3 linked regions of the Homo sapiens genome follow. The protein of the gene in region 3 interacts with the protein of the main gene of each other region in a pairwise test. Each region holds a gene or a part of one and is shown on either strand. Other genes may lie near its edges.

Region 1 (7,030 bases), on a different chromosome or scaffold from region 3:
CTAGGTGACAGAGTAAGACGCTGTCTCAAAAACCAAGGCCAGGCGTGGTGGCTCATACCTGTAATCCCAGCACTTTGGGAGGCCGAGACAGGCAGATTGCCTGGGGTCAGGAGTTTGAGACCAGCCTGGCCACCAACATGGTGAAACTCTGTCTCTACTAAAAATACAAAAGTTAGCTGGGCATGGTGGTGGGCACTTGTAATTGTAGCTACTTGGGAGGCTGAGGCAGGAGAATCACTGGAACCCAGGAGGCGGAGGTTGCAGTGAGCCGAGATTGTGCCACTGCACACCAGCCTGGGCAACAGAGCAAGACTCCGTCTCAAACAAACAAACAAAAAACAAATTTAAAAAAAAATGTATATACCATCCAAAGAACATAAAAACAAGAGTTCTAAAAGCAAATCTCTCTACAGATTAATTAAGAATTAGCGAGGCCAGGCGCGGTGGCTCACACCTGCAATCCCAGCACTTTGGGAGGCTGAGGCGGGCGGATCACAAGGTCAGGAGATCGAGACCATCCTAGCTAACACAGTGAAATCCCGTCTCTACTAAAAACACAAAAAAATTAGCCAGACGTGGTGGCGGGCGCCTGTAAGTCCCAGCTACTCGGGAGGCTGAGGCAGGAGAATGGCGTGAACCCGGGAGGTGGAGCTTGCAGTGAGCCAAGATTGCGCCACTGCACCTCCAGCCTGGGTGACAGAACGAGACTCCGTCTCAAAAAAAAAAAAAGAATTAGCGAATTAGCAGCTACAAACCAAGCAATCAGAATATAAGCTCCGGTAGCTTCAAGCACAGCTATATATGTCTCATGCTAGACACACACATACAGTGACATTGCCAATCATGTTAAAGGATTTGCCAGCCATGGGGGTAATATTTCAACAAGTCACGATTACTTTCAGATTGTACAGCTAAAGTCCAGGTGAGCAGGCAAAGAAACTGGCAGATAAAAATGCCATCGAGCTTCTCTACATTATTGTGGCACTTCCAGATGCACTGCATCGCAGGTGCCAATTTCCCTATAGATATAAGCCCCCACAATACTAAGCTTGTGACCTCTGAAGGTAGGAACCCTGGCCTGTTCATCTTTGTATTCCACAGGGTCTAGCCCCATGGTTTGTTTTTAAAAAGATGTATGCATACTCAGCAATGAGCTGGGTTTCATCCTGTGTAACTGAAGAACATTACTATCATGTCAAGGTTAATATATTTTCTTCTATAGCTACATTAGGCTTTACCGAGAAAAACCAAAGAAAGCTTAAATAGTTTATTGTACACACACACACACACACACACACACCCCGATTTCAAATCGCATGTAGTGAGTCACTGAATCACTACTGTCCACCAATGTTATCAATTTCTGGTCACTGCCTGACCTGGAATATCTCATTCTGTTTCACGCAGTAATTTAATATTTAATGTTCTCTTTCTATCCCCTGAATGTGGATATGAAGTTTTAGTCAGACCCTAGATCAAAATGTTATTCACTCATTTGATGAGCCTCTGGGGGACAGAGTACCAAAATGTCCCGGCGTAACACCAAGTGAGACAAGCTAAGGCAACAGGAGAGCCCAGGGCTGGGCCGTTTCCATCAGTACGCTGAAATGTGCTGTGATGCACATGTGCCTCCCCAGTCGCAAGATCTCAGCACACATCCACCAAACCACTCCACGTACTGATGCACATCAAATGTGGAATGTGCTATTGAAAACTTCAAACACAGAGGCACTCTTTTGTGTCCTAAAGAAAACTAAAATCAAAGCCACTCCTAACAACCACCAAAAACAGCCCCCGCCCCATCCCCCCACCAACACCACAAAATACTCGTAACTGCCAATCACATATGGATGCTTCCAAGCTCCTCAGACCCTCAACTGTCCAACTCAAAAATATGGACAGCCAGGAAGCACTAAGTGCATGCTAAGATCACCATGGCTTCCAGCATCGGACTCCAGGCTCTGACACAACTGACATGGATGAGACCCACCAGTCTTCCCTCTGCTAATGAGAACAGCAGATGCAAGTAGAAGCACAGACCATTTTCCTTTTAAGCTGGCAGCGTACCTTGGTCTTCCCTGTGACAACGCTTATAAAGTGCAAACTTGGCAGGGCTCTCAGTCACGAGAAACTTTTTGAGCAGGGCCTCGATCACTTCCCCGACAGTGTTTGTGCTGCTGATATGAAGTGTATTCATACAGCCATTGCTACTGGGAGAGAGTTTTCCAGAATTTGGAGAAGTCTGTGGAGGTTTGCAGAGTTCCATCTGTACTTTAATGAAGCCAGTGTAAATCCCATTTGAATTCTGAAGCAGGGAGAGAAGCACACACTTAGCTGGGTGGATGGTGGCACTTTAGGGAAGAAGCATATCAAAACAAAACGGGAAGGTGAAACACTCCTTTGTTCTCTTCTCTTGAGGTTTGTGGCAGAACTTCACTAAAGATTGCCCCCAAAGGAATGACCTCAGAGGGCGGTTAACACACCAGGCAAAGTGCTTCCAGAGGCAAGGTCTGCAGGGCAGATGTGGACACTGAAGAAGCCTCCTGATGCTGTGGCTGACTGCCGGCCCCAGACTCATGCCTCTGAAGCTACTGGCAAAAGGTCAGGGTCCATTTGCGAGGTTACAATCCAACGGAGCAGATGCTAGCCAAACCACAAAACTTATTAAAGCTTGGGGGATATGTCTAGGCTACAGGCTCAAAGGAAACAACATCCTCAACTGGTGACTATTATACACAAAAGGAAGGTCACAATTAGGGCTCTGAAATACTGAAGTCAACAACAAGGGGACAGTAAGAAAACAGGCTATTTTCATTCCTAGTGGCTATATTCATATGCACTGAATTACTAACTCTGCTTAAACTTTTTAATGCAGCATATATGCCATACAGCATAGAATGCATTTCGGGTCTCTTAAGCAGCATTTTAAAAAAAAATTCAATCGCTTGAAACCAGAAGGTGGAGGTTGCAATGAGCCAAGATCACGCCATTGCACTCCAGCCTGGGCGACAGAGCAAGATTCTGTCTCAAAAAAAAAAACAAAAAACAAAAACAAAACAAAACAAAAAAAAACAAATTCAAACCACTATACTTCACAGTACAGATCTTAAAAACAACTACCTTCACTGATGGTAGAATTACTATTTCTTAGTTGCCAAAAACAGTAATAACAGTTTGGTCTTCACTTTTTATTTTTATTTTTGTATTCAGTATATTTGGGGCCAGGCGCAGTGGCTCATGTCTGTAATCTCAGCACTTTGGGAGGCCGAGGCGAGCAGACCACTGGAGGTCAGGAGTTCGAGACCAGCCTGGCCAACAGGGTGAAATCCCGTCTCTACTAAAAATAAAAATAAAAAAAAATTAGCTGGGTGTGGTGGCAGGTGCCTATAATCCCAGCTACTCGGGAGGCTGAGGCAGGAGAATCTCTTGAACCCAGAGGTGGAGGTTGCAGTGAGCCGAGATTACGAGATTACGCCATTACACTTCAGCCTGGGCGACAGAGACTGCATCTCAAAAACAAACAAAAACAGTATATTTAGAAAAGATTTATTGTACTGTTTTATTAAACTGTCAAGTGTTACATATAAATGCCACAGTTAAAGTAGAACATTTAAAACTATCTTTATGGTGTGTTATTTTTCTTCCTTCCCACAAGATCAATTTTCAATCCTAATTCTCTAGTTTGTTCTTTTTTGAGACAGGGTCTCACTCTCTCACCCAGGCTGGAGTGCAGTGGCACGAACACAGCTCACTGCAGCCTCAACTTCCTGAGTTCAAGTGATCCTCCTGCCTCAGCCTCCTGAGTAGCTGGGACTGCAGGCACCCGCCACCATGCCTGGCTAATTTTTCTATTTTTAGGAGAGATGGGGTTTTGCCATGTTGACTAGGCTGGCCTTGAACTCTTTTTTTTGAGATGGAGTCTTGCTCTGTCGCCTAGGCTGGAGTGCAGTGGCACGATCTTGCCTCACTGCAAGCTCTGCCTCCTGGGTTCACGCCATTCTTCTGCCTCAGCCTCCCGCGTAGCTGGGACTACAGGCGCCCGCCACCACGCCTGGCTAATTTTTGTATTTTTAGTAGAGACAGGGTTTCACTGTGTTAGCCAGGATGGTCTCGATCTCCTGACCTCGTGATCTGCCCACCTCGGCCTCCCAAAGTGCTGGATTACAGGCGTGAGCCACCGTCGAACTCTTGACTTCAAGTGATCCACCCGCCTCAGCCTCCCAAAATGCTGAGATTACAGGTGTGAGCCACTGTGCCCAGCCTAAAATTTTTATCTTTAAAATGACATGGATAATTTGTATCTGTTTTAGTCTCTATCAGGAAAGGAAAAAAAAAAAACATAGCAAGTGGATTTCTCCTTTGATGAAAAAATGTGTTTGAAAAAGAAATCTTGCTGCTGGAATGATGAAGAGTTATCTTGGGATTCTCTGCTCCTCTCCCCTCTTTTTGGAGGAGTTCTACCAGGGAGGGGTCCTTTACCACAAGGGTTTCTATCTGAAAGCTCCTCCCCAAGAATCACCGATTCGGTAGGGCCTGTTTTAAACCAATCACCTTGTCCTTTACCAAACTCTGTCAGTTCACAGTAAACAGACTGAGAGACGGGGATCCAAGTGCCCTGGAAACTGGCGCCAAGGGCTGACAAGTGCCATGAAGAAGGCGGGCCACCCAATGGGTAGGCGAGACCTAGATGCCAGCTAAGTTTAGAGGAACATGAATACTCTAGCTCCGCTGTCAGCTCGTTTCCCTATCCCCAGGCCCTGAGGCTTCTCCCTCCTGTACGCCGACTCCCTGCATGCTTCAGTGTGGCACAATGCTGTGGAAGCCTGCGACAGCGACGTGGAAGAAACTGAGTATTAAGTACCTTGTCTTACACTAACGACCGGCAGAGAAAACTATCCTATTATATACCTCTATATTCCAATCCATGGGCTCAAAATCCTTTCCCTGACACTTCCATATTTATTTTGTACAAGACAAAAACTTAGGGGCTTCTGATACCTGTAATCCCAGCACTTTGGGAGGCCAAGCTGGGCAGATCCCTTGAGCCAAGGAATTTGAGATGAGCCTGGGTGATATGGCAAAACCCCGTCTCTACAAAAAATACAAAAATTAGCTGGGCATGGTGGCAAGCACCTGTGGTCCCAGCTACTCGGGAGGCTGAGGTGGGAGGATTACTTGAGCCCGGAGGTCGAGGCTGCAGTGAGCGGTGATCGTGCCACTGCTCTCCAGCCCAGGTGACAGAGCAAAACCTTGTTTCAAAACAAAACAAAACAAAAAACCTTACCTGAGGTCTTCTTAGAATCTGAGTCACCATTTCTGTATGTTAGGCAATGATGCTAAAAATCCTTTGAGGAGGGAGGGGTGGGTCACAAAATCTTTTAAAATAAAATTATAAGTGTTTCACTTTTTTAAGGTTAACCCAGCAACTGATTTTTGAGACAAAGCTACTTCACAATACAGATTTAAATGGAAAGCCACAGAAATATTCCACTTTCCTGTTCTGTATACCTTGACTACTACACTTCTACAAATGCTATTCAGATATTTAGAACTATAGATTGTAGTACCAACAATTTATATTTGTCTTTTGACAGGTGTCAACCTAAATAGTATTTTGAGTGCTTACCAAGGTCATCTTCAACTTGTCTGTGACTGCTAAGTTGTATTTATGAACTTTCTCTTTGATCTCCTCTTTGCTGAGGTAACTGTGGGTTTCCTTCTCTTTCTCAACATCCTAGAAGAAAAACAAGACATGTCACATGTGAGCAATCATAAAAAAAAGTGCGGATAGGCCGGGCGCAGTGGCTCACGCCTGTAATCCCAGCACTTTGGGAGGCTGAGGTGGGCGGATCACCTGAGGTTGGGAGTTCAATACCACCCTGACCAAAATGGAGAAACCCTGTCTCTACTAAAATTACGAAATTAGCTGGGCATGGTGGCGCACGCTTGTAAACCCAGCTACTTGGGAGGCTGAGGCAGGAGAATCACTTTGAACGTGAGAGGCAGAGGTTGTGGTAAGCTGAGATCACGCCATTGCACTCCAGCCTGGGCAACAAGAGCAAAACTCTGTCTCAAAAAAAAAAAACAAACAAACAAACAAACAGATAAGTCAGGATTTTTTAAAAATTCCACACAAGGGCCGGGCACGGTGGTGGAAGCCTGCAATCCCAGGACTTTGAGAGGCCAAGGACGGCAGAGCTTAAGCCCTGGAGATTGTGACCAGGCTGGGCAACATGAGGAAACTCTATCTCTACAAAAAATACAAAAATTAGCTGGGCACAGTGGTGCACACCTGTAGTCGCAGCTAGTTAGGAGGCTGAGGTGGGAGCATCACCTCAGCCCAGAGGTCGAGGCTGTAGTGAGCCATAATTATGCCACTATGCTCTAGCCTGGGTGACAGAGTGCGACCCTGTCTCAAAAAAAAAAAAAAAAAAATTACAACCACACAAGAAGAACCTTATTGTTCTTGCATGTTACCTTGAAACACACACACACACACACACACACTCACTCTCTCTCTCTCTCTCTCTCCTTCTCTCCCTCGCTGCTTCTCTTTCTCTCTTACCTTCAAACTCTCCAGGCTCATCCACCAATTACGGTTCTCATTCTTTCATACTACAGTCTTCCTAGGGGATATATTTTTTAAGAAAACTAATTTGTCAGCAGCTACAAGTAACACTTCATTACCAATATATTCTGCAAAACTGTCATTGCTAAATTTCCCTTCTGCAAAAACATCATTTCCTCAGCATGCCTGCTAGATTGGCCATTTCTATTTTAAACAACATTTAAAGACATTTACCACAAGTTTCTCTTTAGCAACTTGTATTAACTCTGTTGTCTTTATAGCTTTACAATATTTATTGGCAAAAAGTACAGCAGTTAATCAGTATTAACTGGCACTATTCACGGACTCATACTAATCACTGACCTGTAAACTGTACACAACTACCAGAGGATAATTCATCTTCCAAACAAATCCCCAGGCCAAGATACAAGTAGCCAGACTTCTCCTTCCCACCCTTCCAGT
Region 2 (7,611 bases), on a different chromosome or scaffold from region 3:
TGGGTCTGGGAGGCGCTGCTCAGTCTGCCGACAGCATCTTCTGGAATTACTGGTGTGGTGGAACTCAAAAATTTTCTGCTTCACCTGAGCTTCCCAGTAGAAATTCTTAGGCTGACGTCACAAAGATCACGACTCATTTTTCCTGTTTGTATATTTGCTGCAAAAGAATCGACACTCTCTCCTCTTAAGCTCCTTTACTAGGCTCTAGGTGATGATGAAGTTTTCCTTTAAGTTAACATCCTTATTACTTAAATAGGAGACACTTCATGTTCTACTCCTGAAAGCAGTGGTATTAGTTAAGTTTGGTTGTTGAGATTATGTTATGAAAGTGATGAAATCACTATAATTTATCATTTTAAACATACAAATTAATTTTTGCAACAGAATAACTCTCTAACTGTAATGTGAAAGGAAAATATTCAGAATTCCTTTCTCAGAGGTTTTGTTTTCAAATGGCCTATACTTGAATATTTTAAAAATCTAAGCTTTTATATGAAGCCCATGTAACTCTAGTAACCGTGAATTCCCCACCTACATTGCAATCAATGAATCTATATAAGCAAATGGACTGTCAGCATTGGGTTTCTATCTCAGTTAAAAGTAAAGGATCCTTCTTATTTTAGGAAATTAAAACAAGAATCAGGTATAGAACTTTTAATTACATGCTTAAAAGACTTGTTACATACATGTTACACTATTTTGAATATAACTGGAAAAGTTAATTTTTTCGTAATCATTGCTGGGTCTCTCTGTGTCACTCTTTTCTCTCTTTCTCTCTCTCTCTGATTGACCACAACATTTAATAGTTTATAATAAAATGTTATACACGTGAGAAATAGTAGAATAAATGTAAATTCAACACAATATTCTAATGTATAGATATAAAGTTGTTATCTATCTATCTATCTATCTAAACAGATTTTAACTAGAAAGACTTCCACCCAGTTACGGTTAAGTAGATTAATCTCAAATCAATTTCAAATATGGTTAAATAAATTTATCTCAATTGGGGCTACTATTCTTTATTTAGACATATGTCTATCAATAAATATAAAGGCAAATAACTTTGTTTAAGGATGTATAACAATATGGAAATTCAGCATAAAAGCATATTTCCTCTTTGAAAAATCTTTAATGAATATTGGAACCCTAACTTATTCTAATTCAATTTGATTCCTTTATAAGTTTTTAGCTAAACTGTACTAAACACAATCAGACCCCAGAGGGAAATAACATAGTAAACTTCAGTTAGGTTGGGTTTAGAATTCTATCCACAATTCTCCAGTCAATATCTAATTGTAAGCACACTGAAGAATTTCAACTCTGCAATTTGAAAAAAGAATCCATTAAAACACCAATGATATTAAGTTAGAGTATACTGCAAACTCTTTGACTGCTTTATTTAATAAAATAACAAGATAAAAATGAAGTCAATGGAAATTACTAGTCATAGACACTAAGTTGGTCCCCTCAAGAAAATTAGCAACATTAATAACTAACAACATTGACAAAAGTGCCCTTTAAGTGAAACTTCATAAAATAAAGCCACTTTCCTGTAATTTAAGCTTAAGAGGTAGAGACTGACAAAATACAAGTATTATTCCTTCATGTCTCTTGTCCATCAACACAAATTAAAAACAGCACTTCAATACAAACAATTCAATATGTGCTGAAATATAAAGACATGGATTATATGGTCTAAATTGATGAAAGTTATTCAAAAGCAGTCTCCTTTATAAAACCCAAATGGCATGAATTCCACAATATGAGATTGTGTGTAACTCTCTTACTCTAAAATTCTATTTTCTTTTTAGGAATAACAGATTAATGTAAATGTGAATTTTTCAAAAGAAAACTGATTGAGTAGCAAATATGTCTGAATTTGCCACCACATACTCTATCTGAAAAATGGAAAGAAGCCAGGTCATTTCGTTGCTACCCAGAGAGATGATCCTAGCACACCTGTCACCTGCTTGCCTGTCCTGGATCCAGTCTCCGGGAACCAGTTCAATTCCAGCATCCTAATACACACTGTCTGGTCTCCCTAGTTCAGCTTGCCCTCCCTGATAACGGCCCCTTTGGCAGAGCAGCTTATTCTTAATGCTAACAGTAGGTATCACTTACAGAACACTTGCTGACTGTTCAGTTCCCATCAAAGAAAGCCTTATGTGGCAGATCCTTTGATGATGCTTGTTTTACAGACAAACGTTTGGGGCTTAGGTTAAGAAACTTGAGAGGGGGCAAACTAATAAGTGGCAAAGCCGAGCTTTGAACCTACCACTCTTCTGCTTCAGAATTCATATCCTTAACTCATGCACTCCCATTTAATTATTTATGTTTATTATTTCATTGTTTGGTGAGCGCTTATATTGAAAATTCATTTTTTTTTTGGTGGGGGGCATGCTTTCTGTCACTTTGCAGAAACAAATAAAAGTTGAGCTGAACCCTCAATTAAGTTCTTTCCAGTGCGATGATTCAACACAATATTCTAACCATAAGGATACTCAGAGGAAGGAGTATGCCATCCAGAAGTCTAGTATCTTTGTAAGGCACGATTTTTGCCAGGCACAATTACAGGTGAAGGGCTCATTGAACTAAAGGGAGGAGGGGTCCTATGGTCACATTTACCTCCAAGCCCTTCTCTGCACCCTTTCCCTCCCTTCTTTCCCCTCTCTCCCTCCCACCCTACAAGCTTACCTTGGTTAGGAAAGCATATTCTGAGAAAATCAAAAGGAAAAGGCATGTGTGCGATTCAGGCTGCTATGACACACACACACTTAACTTTGTTGCCTATGGATTCTGCTTTCTAATAACTTGCCCTCAACATGACCCCAGGGAGTGGATTAGAAAGTTTTTTTCCCCATCCCCATTTTTTACCTGTTATTCACACTGTGAGCAGGAGGACCCTTTTCACCATCGTTGTTCGGCTGAACTTGCTTCGCGGTTTGTTCTCGGCTGGGTCAGGAACTCTGGTAGAGGGAAACCAGTGCCCTGTCTCTGCCGGGCTGGGACTCCGCGAGTCACTCACCTGTAGGGGAGGTCCGAGGCCCGCGCGGGCGCAGGGGCGGCGCCTGTCTCCTCCCAGAGCATGGCTCAGCTGGGCGCTTGCAGTGCCCCCGACGCGATCAGCGATCCTGGAGCCCCAGGAGCTGTTAATTATTTCTCCTTTTCGCCACAGCAGGGAAGTGTCAAGAAACCTGAGCCACTCCCTGTGCCTCAGTGCATGTTGGGAGTGTTTACTTTCTTAGGAACAGCTGATAGGTACACTCCTTTGCTCTCTGCCACACTTCTTGAGAAATGAATGGACATTCTAGTTAACGCTTTAACCACGGGATTTGACTGATGTTAATCTCTATTCTCTAGTCCACCCAGACTGTAGGTAATTGGCCTGTGAGAAATGACACCAACCAAGACTGAACGCCATTATTCACGTCTTTCTTTTTAAGATTTTTCTTTTCCAATTTGAGATTTGTTAACTTTCTTTTCCTTGTTATTTTGCTAACACATTTCCCTGCTAGCACTTTTTTTCACCCAGAGCAGCGTTTCGCGCTTCAGGGTGCACCAGGACCACCTATGTATTCTGCTAAACCCAGGTACCATCAACTGTGAGACTCTGATTTAGTAGGCCATGCATACACTTCGGGTATTTATATTTTTTATAAGCTCCACAGAAGAAACTGGTAGACATCAAAGTTTGAAAATGAACATAATGAAACAAAACAGAGGAGATAAATAATAATTTAGTCATTATCTACTGAATTGGATTTGGGGGCTTTGTTTTATCCAATATCTCCAATTTCAAAAGGACACCAAAAAGGCTTAGAAACTGTTAAATGACAGATGCTGTGGAAATATGAAGTACATTTACACACACACACACACACACACACACACAGATTTTTAAGGATCATTGTTATTTTACTGGTTTCCTATGTAAAGCAACTATTCATAATTTTTAAACATAATAGGTTATTTTACAAGTGTAAACCTGAGAGCCCTCAAAAGAAATTCAATCTGATTCCTGCAAAAAGTTCAGCAGGCAGAGTTAATTTCTAGTATCTTTCGTGTTCAAACGCCAGACAAACAGAATGACTCTAGATGTTCAGGTTGCATGTTTGTCATAGCACTTTAAGTAAGATCCTATATGTTCAAAAGGTGAGGCAGGCCAGGTGCAGTGACTCACGCCTGTAATCTCAGCACTTTGGGAGACCAAGGCTGGTGGATCACTTGAGCCCAGGAGTTCAAGACCAGCCTGGACAACATGGCAAAACCCTGTCTCTGCAAAAAAAAAAAAAAAAATTAGCCCGGCATTGTGGGGCATGCCTATAGTCCCAGCTACTCGGGAGGCTGAGGTGGGAGGATCACTTGAGCCTGGGAAGTCGAGGCTGCAGAGAGCCAAGATTGCACCACTGCACTCCAGCCTGATTCAAAAAAAAAAAAGAAAAAATATTAGGCAGTTTATCTATTTAATCTGTGGTGTGCGGAGACCAGGAACTATCAGATTTATCATTATTTGAGCAAATGGTTTTATTGGATCACAATCAAAGATTTTACAATCTTATGTAAGGACAGATGTGACTTAGTATTACTTGCAGATATTAATTCGATCATCATGTTGGCTCCATAACTCTCTGGTATGTGGCTGCTGGTATGGACTGACCTTTGAATGATGACTAGCAGGACCTAGAGTAGTTACAGCTCTCGGTTCCAGGATATCTTGCTCAAATCCATGCTCCACCTCCATTGTCTGTGCTTGAAGTGGGTCATTTGCTTATTGTCAGCATCAGGGCAACATTCTTTTGCATCTTTTACCTGCAAGCATTGGATTTGGGGGCTTTGTTTTTTGCCAATATCTCCAATTTCAAAAGGACTCCAAAAAGGCTTAGAAACTGTTAAATGGCAGATGCTGTGGAAACTTTTACTCTGATGACTGCTTTCCAACTGGTTTTCTAAAGAAAAGTAAAGTTAGAGGCTTAGTGACTTCGTTTTTTAGTGTTTTATCTGTTTGTAAATATGTAATTTTTATTTGATAATATAAAAAGTATATAATTGCACATATGCAATGTGGAAAATCTGAAAAACACAGAAATGTAGAGGACAAAAAGCACCTATAATTCCATCTCTCAAGTATAATCATCATAAACAATTTGTTGAATGTCTTTATTGACTTATTTTCCCTGTGGCTGTTTATCAAAATGCTATTACATTTGGTTTGTTGGTTTATAGCCTGCTTTCATCACATCAAACGTAGTATGAACAATTTACTATAAATCAGTCACTTTTTTTCCTGCAATGTAATTTTAACTAGCTGCTCTGTATTGCACCAAATGAAAATACCGTTACTTATTTAATTATTATGATAAAGTTATACTGTTATAAACAACACTGCAGTGAATGATTACATATGATTCCACACAAGCATGACTACACCTTTTAGATACATTTCAAAAATTGAAGTTACCAGATGTAAGGCAATGTGCATTTTGAAGAATTTCCCTGCTTAAAAAATCTTTGTCAGTTTTATACTCCCAGGGCAGCTAACATGGGTTATTATACTTCTTTTAAACATTTATTAATTTGAAACATAAAAAAATCCATATCTTATTTTAAATATATATATTATCGTACTTGTAAGTTTGGGCTCTTTAGACTTTGCACTTTTGCTTTATTGTTTATTGGACTCTTTGCTCATCTTTTTTCTTATTGATTTATAAATTCTCTTTATATATTAAACATATCAACTCTTCATCATATATGCTGTGACTATATTTTCAAGGTGACTTGTTTACCTTGCAGTCTTGTCTATGGTATTTTTGACATATAAAAGTTTAAAAATGTAAATGGTCGAATCTATTATTTTTCTTTATCAGTTACATCAGTTTTATAAAAGCTTTCCCATCCTTAAAGAATGTAAAAATGCACATATATTGCTTCTTCTAGTTTTTCTAAGATTTAGATATTATTTATTTATTAAATTGAACATTTTAGCCCATCTAGACTTTATTATGTTAATACACCATGAAATTTAGATCTAACTTAATTTTTCTAAGTTATTAGTTTGTTAACTGAGTCATGTTTATTAAATAACTATAGATTATAAAATTTATGAAGGCAAGGACCTTCATAAATTCATAATGTCTTATCCTCTATTTTAACCACTAAGCTTAGCACAGTGACTGGCAGGCCCATGGTTGCTCAGATCAAATGTTTAACTAGCACTCTTGATTTCTTTCTTTCCCTCTTTCCACGCCCAGTAAATGAGCAAGTCCTGATGTTGTATCTCCATGGCTACCACCTTACATCAGGCCAGCATCATCTCTTGCTTGGATACCACAAATGACCTCCGAACTGGGCTTTATGCCTCCCCTCTTATCCTACTACAGTCCATTCTCCACCTGTGGCTAGCGTAATCTTTTATAAGCAATATCCAGACAACAATACCACTTCTGATTTTCTTGGTTTAAAGGCTTTCTAGTGGTTGCACCGCACATCTGGAATAAAATCTAAATCTGAACTGCTTACCATGCCCTACAATGCCCCACATGACTGGCTCATCCCTGCTTCTTCGACCTTTTTGATTTTCTGCTTCCTTGGTACTAACTCTAAACTTGCTACCCTGGTTAATTTTTATTTCTGGAACAGACTAAACTTCTTCCTGTCTCACTGCGTTTGTATTTATTATTGATTCACTCAAGAAAGCTTTGCTCTGGTCATGGGTAGTTTCTTTTCATTACTATGTTTTTTTCCTCAAATATTACCTCCTTAGAAAAGCTTCCTATGACGACTGTATTCGAAGAAGACTTCTGATCTTTCTCTATTATAGCACCTTGTTTTATTGTATTTGTGGCAATTATCATTAGCTAATTATGTTTTATTGTTTGGGGTTACCTCTTTATTTTATGTCTCCTGTCATTAAAATATAAACGCTAAGAGATCAGGAACCTTGACTTGTAGGTTCACTCCTCTATGCTTAGTGTCTAGAACAATGTGTGGTCCCCTGAGGGTCAAGAAACACTGGGTCAAGAAAAAATAGTAACAATAAATAAGCGTTGAGTAAATAAATGTAGATCACACTCTTTCTTGATATGAAATGACACTTTTATCAAATACTGAGGGCATACATATTTTTTGCCTTACACTTCATTTCATATCTGAGGCTGTACTTAAAGAATATGTGCTAGGGAAGGAAAAAAGGAAGCAGAGGCAGTGTAGTTCCAAACAATGAGGGGACTCCCAGTAAAAACCTAGCTGGAAAATTGCCTTAAAGAGGAAGCCAGGCCTTCACAAGGAGGCAATGTGTTAATTACATTTCCGATGTGTAAAGCTTAAAATAAATATATTTTACAACTGGAAATTTTTGCCATAAAGATTTTAATAAATTACAGCAACCGTAACAGATTAAGATTTTTGGAAAATCCCAACATTTAACTTGAACTTGAAGAATAAACCGTCACTTCCTGTTTCAATTGAGGAACATATACTGCTTTTCTGTGAAAACAGACAAGAAATTTAATTAAAAAAAAAAAACTTTGTTGAGAAAAATAAGGGAGGAGAAATTTCCTTTAAAAATATACACAGAACTTTAATTAAAACAGTGCTGTAATTGATGTA
Region 3 (6,040 bases):
GATAATAGGGCAGTGCCAAGACATTGGGGGTGTGGGAAGGCAGGGTTAGGGGATGGCATCTGCGCCTCATCAGCATCGATCCTCCATGGTGTCGTATCCTGAAAGTGGGAAAGGCGCTGTCCAGATAGACGCTTATCTCGTAGACAGAACAAGAACGGGGAGGCAACCATTATTTCACATACAGCAAGTTACTGTTATTTTAATGCCCTAACAATGAATCTATATTTAATTAACTTAAAAGATAGGGGAGGTGAGAGTATTATTCACTAAGTTCTTGGTCAAGGCACATTAAATCAAAGCGGTTAGCACTTAGATCTCTTCCAGGGATAAATTATCTCAGACAAGCTTCAAGGTATGCCATGCTTTGGAATGAATTGTCACTTTCCAACCACCACCACTCAACCTGTGATCTGACCACAGTGTCTTCCTCCTGTCTCCCTTCCCTCTGGGTGCCTGGGAAGGCTGGGCTTCTGCACTGTTCTGCCACTGACTTAAGCTTTGTCGTGACTATACCTTCCACTTCTCTTCTAGCTTAAGAGTTGGACAGTGGAGGACCTTCAGAAGAGGCTCTTGGCCCTGGACCCCATGATGGAGCAGGAGATTGAAGAGATCCGGCAGAAGTACCAGTCCAAGCGGCAGCCCATCCTGGATGCCATAGAGGCTAAGAAGAGACGGCAACAAAACTTCTGAGCAAGGCCAGGCTGTGAGGGCCCCAGCTCCACCCAGGCTTTGGGTGAATTCTGGATGGCTTGCCTCATGTTTGTTAGCCAGCACTTCTGCTCTGTCGTCTCTCCACAGCACCTTTGTGAACTCAGGAATGTGCGCCAGTGGGAAGGGCTCTCTTGACAGTCAGCGTGCCATCTTGATGTGTGTATGTACATTGGTCAGGTATATTATCTCAAAGGATTTATATTGGCGCTTTTAACTCAGAGTTTTAAACCCCAGGAACAGAGACTCCTAGTTGAGTGATAGCTGGGAAAGTTTTACATTGTCTGTTTTTCTTCTCCCAATAGCTTTCAATTGTTCTTTCTGGAAGACTTTTAAAAAAATATAAATATGCATATATATATATAAATTATAAATAGATTCCCCACGCAGTGTGGTGGCATCTCTGTACAGGTACAGTTTTAAACGGTTTGCCTCTTTTCTGTAAGATTATGGTACTGTGGAACATGAGGGCAGAGGACACCGGGAGGCTGTTAGGGGGTCACTGAATCCCAGGAGCCAACCTCCCCCTTTGCAGGGCTGCATTTAAAAATTAGGTTTGGGACAGTTCTTGTACCGTGGTTTCAGCCTTGTGTGGTCATCACTGGCTTCTGGAGCTATTGGTGATGTCCAAGGGAAAGCTTTGAGAGTTTATGTTTACTCTTTGAGTCCCAGGAGAAGCCTGGCACCCTCTTTGCAAATTGGCCTTTGCTCTTTCAATGCCTTTCATCCATCTCCACTCTCTCAACTGCCTAAAGTCACAGCACAGATACTGCCCAGTGCCTTAAGAGGAGACATGATCTCTACCAGGGACTCTCAGCAAACACGGGACTGTGTTCAGTCCACAAAGGAAAAGCGTTTTTGAAGCTCTCATTGTTCATGTAAAAATCATACACGTGGCATGTTGCTCCACATTCCTTACACACAGGGGTAGAGGGGATTGCTTTTGTGACCCACGTTCAAATATGTGACTGTTTTCTTTTCTCTTTTACTGCTAAGCAGCCTGGAAAGGATAAATGAATATTAGACTAAGATTTGTTTTCCAGGAGGCTCAATCTGAACACACAGAATGTCAGAGCTGGAAGGGACTATAGAGATCATCTGATCTGATCCTCTTGTACGGATGATCGCAAAACTGAGGTGTAGAGAGGGGAATGGCCAAAATCACAAAGCAAGTTAGCGTTAAGAGCTGAGACTAGAATTCAGGGTCCTCACTCCCAGGCCACCGAACCATGCAGCCCCTTCTTTGGGGGAAGAGACCTGTGTCAGTCTTGGTTAATTGTTCCAGGGAACCTTGCTAACAGAAACTTGCTCTTGCCTTGGCTCTTCAGTAGATGACCTGGCTGTAAAGAGATTCCCTGGACGAGCCAGATCATTCAGTTTCAGCGAGTCCTTGAGCTCCACAACATCTACCAGATATAGCAGACAAGCACCCATGGAGGCAGGTTTCGGGCCTGAAGCAGATCAGAGGGCTTTGCAAAAGACAGCATAGAGCCATCTTCCTGCAACTTTACCTCTTTCCCTCAGATGGGGAGCCATGACTGGGTTGCACCTCAGGATACTGTAATTTGACTCCATAATTGCTTTTGCTCCTGAAACCTGGGAATCAATGGAAAGGCAGGGAATGTGCCTCTTCTGTGGCCAGATTCTGTTATTTGCAATTAAAGCAAGTTTTTAAAAAATGCAAGAGGCAGTTGTTAGTCTTCAGGGCTTGGCAACTGAAATAGCTATGTGGCGGATACGGAAAACAGAGGACAATTTGAGGATCTTGCTGGAATAATAAATGACAGCTACCATTTGTTGAGCACCTATTATATATCAGGCACTGAGCTGGGTAGGCTCTAAACTTCACAATAACCCTGTGACTTAACTACTTTATCTCCATTTTGTAGTTGAAGAAATAAGTTCAGAGAGAAAGATTCCTTCCCAAGGTCATGCAGCTAGTAAATGATAGAATCAGGATTCATAGCATCACTATAGGGGGTCAATATTTACACAAAAAAGGAAAGTCACAAGCCTGTTTAAAATGAAGTGACCACCTTTTCTTGCATAGACTAAATAACTCGAACTGGCATTTTTAGGTTGGAAAGACAGCTGAATTAGTAGTTAAGTCTGATAGCCAAGTAAGTTTTAAAAACCAAAGCATCCAGGATGCACACCCCTGCACCATTTGCTGTGCGAATTAATAGTTCTGTCTCTCTCTCTCTTTCTTTTTTCTTTTTATTCTTTGAGATGGATTTTCGCTCTTGTCGCCCAGGCTGGAGTACAATGGCACGATCTTGGCTCACTGCAACCTCCGCCTCCCGGGTTCAAGCGATTCTTCTGCTGGGATTACAGCATATGCCACCATGCCCAGATTATTTTTTTGTATTTGTAGTAGAGACGGGGTTTCACCATGTCAGTCAGGCTGGTCTTGAACTCCTGACCTCAGGTGATCCACCCGCCTCAGCCTCCCACACTGCTGGGATTACAGGCATGAGCCACCGCTCCTGGCCTCTCTTTCTTTTTTAAACAAAGAACTTTGCACTTGGCCAGAGAGGAGGAGAAAGCCCATTTTCTCCCTTCCTAAGCTAGATCCAAATAAAAGAAAGTTCAGTTTTCCCCCATAACTATTCTTGGGTCATGAACTTTGATCTGGAGTTTGTTTTGTTTCAGGAATGTGTGCACCCAGCTTGCTGATCCAACAAAGTCTATTGCTTACCAGTCTAGCTTGATGAAGCCTTTTGGCCAGAAGTCAATTTGTTTTGGATCAGAGAAATTTCCTGACAAGGTATATTTGTTTTCTAGTGACAGAAAGGCAAAGGAACAAGTCCTAGTTGTTGTTGTTGTTGTTGAATACTAAATTTAAGATATGTCAGCTTGCTTTCAATGAGCCTTGGGCTTCTGTTATTGCTTGAGCATTTGGAACTCGAGCTTCCAGAGAAATTTGAGGTCCTCGCTTGTTCTCTGCCTTCAAGAAACAATGACCTGATTCTGTCTTTAAAAAAAAAAATCTCAGAATTCTTTTTTTGTTTGTGTTTTTTTTTTTTTTTGAGACAGAGTCTCACTCTGTTGCCCAGGCTGGAGTGCAGTGGCGCCATCTCGGCTCACTGCAACCTCCGCCTCCCAGGTTCAAGCAATTCTCCTGCCTCAGCCTCCCAGGTAGCTGCCACTACAGGTGCTGCACCACCACGCCCGGCTAATTTTTGTATTTTTAGTAGAGACAGGGTTTCACCATATTAGCCAGGTGGGTCTTGAACTCCTGACCTTGTGATCCACCCGCCTCGGCCTCCCAAAGTGCTGGGATTACAGGCGTGAGCCACCTTGCCTGGCCAAAAATCTCAGAATTCTTTAAGACTGTTTTAATTGCTCCATCAGTAATTTTGAAGCACTTTCCTTTTTTTTTTTTTTTCCCCTTTTTGTCCCTTTCCCCAAGCCACCAATTGGATGGATGAATGTTTGACGGGGAAGAGGAAGGGTAGGAGGATGCATGGATGAGTGGATGAGTGGATCGATGGATGTATTGATAAATAGATAGAACCAGTCATCTGAAGCAACTTAAGAATTGTAGCCTTGACTCCTTGAGACTGTAGATTTCGATCCAGGAAACATTTATTTAGCACCTGCCAGATGCCAGAAATTTATACCATTTAAAACTCAGTAAGTCTTTTAAATATCAGGAAGGAGAGAAGCGACATCATGATACATCCTATGGGTATTAAAAAGCCAATAGAATATTATGAATAATTTTATGCTAATAAATTTAACAACTTCAACATCATAAACAAATTCCTTGAAAAATAAAAAGTACCAAAATTCATTCAAGAAGAAATAGATACCAGCCTGAGCAACATGGCAAAATCCCATCTCTACAAAACATCAAAAAAAAAAAAAATTAGTCGGGCATGGTGGTGCACACCTGTAATCCCAGCTTGTCAGGAGGCTGAAGTGGGAGGATCACCTGAGCCCAGGGAGGTCAAGGATGCAGTGAGCCATGGTCTCACCACTGCACTCTAGCCTGGGTGACAGAATGAGACCCCGTCTCAAAAAAAAAGAAGAAGTAGATAATCTGAATAGCCCTATATCTATAGAAACTTAATAGTGCTGGGAGATATAGGTATTATTATCCTCATTTTACAGATGTGAAAATTGAGGCTCAGAGAAGTAAAGTCTATTGCTCAAGGTCATGTGGCTAGAATATGGCAGAGCCATGATTCAGATCCAGGTCTTCTGATTCTTATTCCAGTGTCCTTTCTAGCATACCATGTTGCCTCTAAAGATTGCAGCTCCTTATTTACTAGAAAATTGTTCCTGCCCAATCTACATCTCCACCTCACCCCATCTTTTCTTAAGCACTATGTTTGTGTTTTTATCAGTATTATATTCATTGTCTTTGGAATACATGTTCTTGTTTGTGTTTGGAAAAAAAATCTCTTTTACCAGCTTGCACTCGGACCAACTTGGAAAAAAAAAAGCTTAAATGTTTTTGCTATGTACAGTTTAAAAATGTGAAGTTTGTAGCTTTAACTTTTTGTAAGAAAATCTAATAACACTGGCTTAAGTGCTGACTTGAAATGCTATTTTGTAAGGTTTGGATGTAAGTAATCAATTGAGGTCAGCAGTTTGTATGAGACATAGCTTCCTCCATTGCCCCCACTCCTTTTTTCTTTTTTAAGTTTGAGATGCTTCCTGTGTTTTTATGTTAGAATTGTTGTTCTCCTTCTTTTCTTCTTCCTATACCTCATCACGTTTGTTTTAAATAAACTGTCCTTTGGACCACAAACCCTTATTAACGAGAACCTCAATATATAGCCTGGATAATGGTGTTGTGAACAATCTTTGTGACATTGACTCAGTGGTGTGTTTATTCTAAGATCCAAAGCTGGGGAGAGGTTGGTAAACTTTTGTTGGGCTTCTATTATGTGCCAGGGTACTGAGCTAGTTATCAGGAATATAATAAAGATGAACCAGATACAGTTTTTGCAGGGCATTTGGGGAGTTAGCCAAGCACAAAAACACACAACATTGAACATACCATGGTAGAAGAAGGTACAGGGCCTGTGGATACACAGAAGAGGGAGTGACGGTTCTGCTGGGATGTCCAAGGAAACTCTTCTAGAGGAGACAATATACCTTGAAACTTTAAAAATGAAGAAGAGATGGCTAGATTAATAAAGAGTAGGAAGTGAGGGAGAGAAGACATCCTGGACAGAAGAGCCCGCCTGTATAAAGCCTCTAGTGTGAGATGATCACCTTGGAATCCTTCATCCTCATCTGCTGCTGCACGAAGCCAGGCCAGACGTGGCCCAGCATTCAGAGGTGGAACAGCAGGTTCCTGCCCTGGTGTGGCCCATTC

What was found. Proteins that work in one complex are often made in the same cells at the same time.
Region 1: the proteins of STK4 (region 3) and RASSF3 interact in binary tests that used the Homo sapiens proteins (3 or more experiments, as listed by UniProt).
Region 2: the proteins of STK4 (region 3) and RASSF6 interact in binary tests that used the Homo sapiens proteins (3 or more experiments, as listed by UniProt).

Annotation. Positions count from the first base shown.
Region 1 is NC_000012.12:64,683,491-64,690,520, reverse strand, and holds part of RASSF3 (ras association domain-containing protein 3), read right to left. Parts: intron 5,735-7,030; coding exon 5,627-5,734; intron 2,306-5,626; coding exon 2,068-2,305; intron 1-2,067.
Region 2 is NC_000004.12:73,617,411-73,625,021, forward strand, and holds the start of RASSF6 (ras association domain-containing protein 6), read right to left. Parts: upstream 3,027-7,611; 5' UTR 2,878-3,026; intron 1-2,877.
Region 3 is NC_000020.11:45,074,487-45,080,526, forward strand, and holds the end of STK4 (serine/threonine-protein kinase 4), read left to right. Parts: intron 1-531; coding exon 532-690; 3' UTR 691-5,535; downstream 5,536-6,040. UniProt on the Homo sapiens protein: Stress-activated, pro-apoptotic kinase which, following caspase-cleavage, enters the nucleus and induces chromatin condensation followed by internucleosomal DNA fragmentation.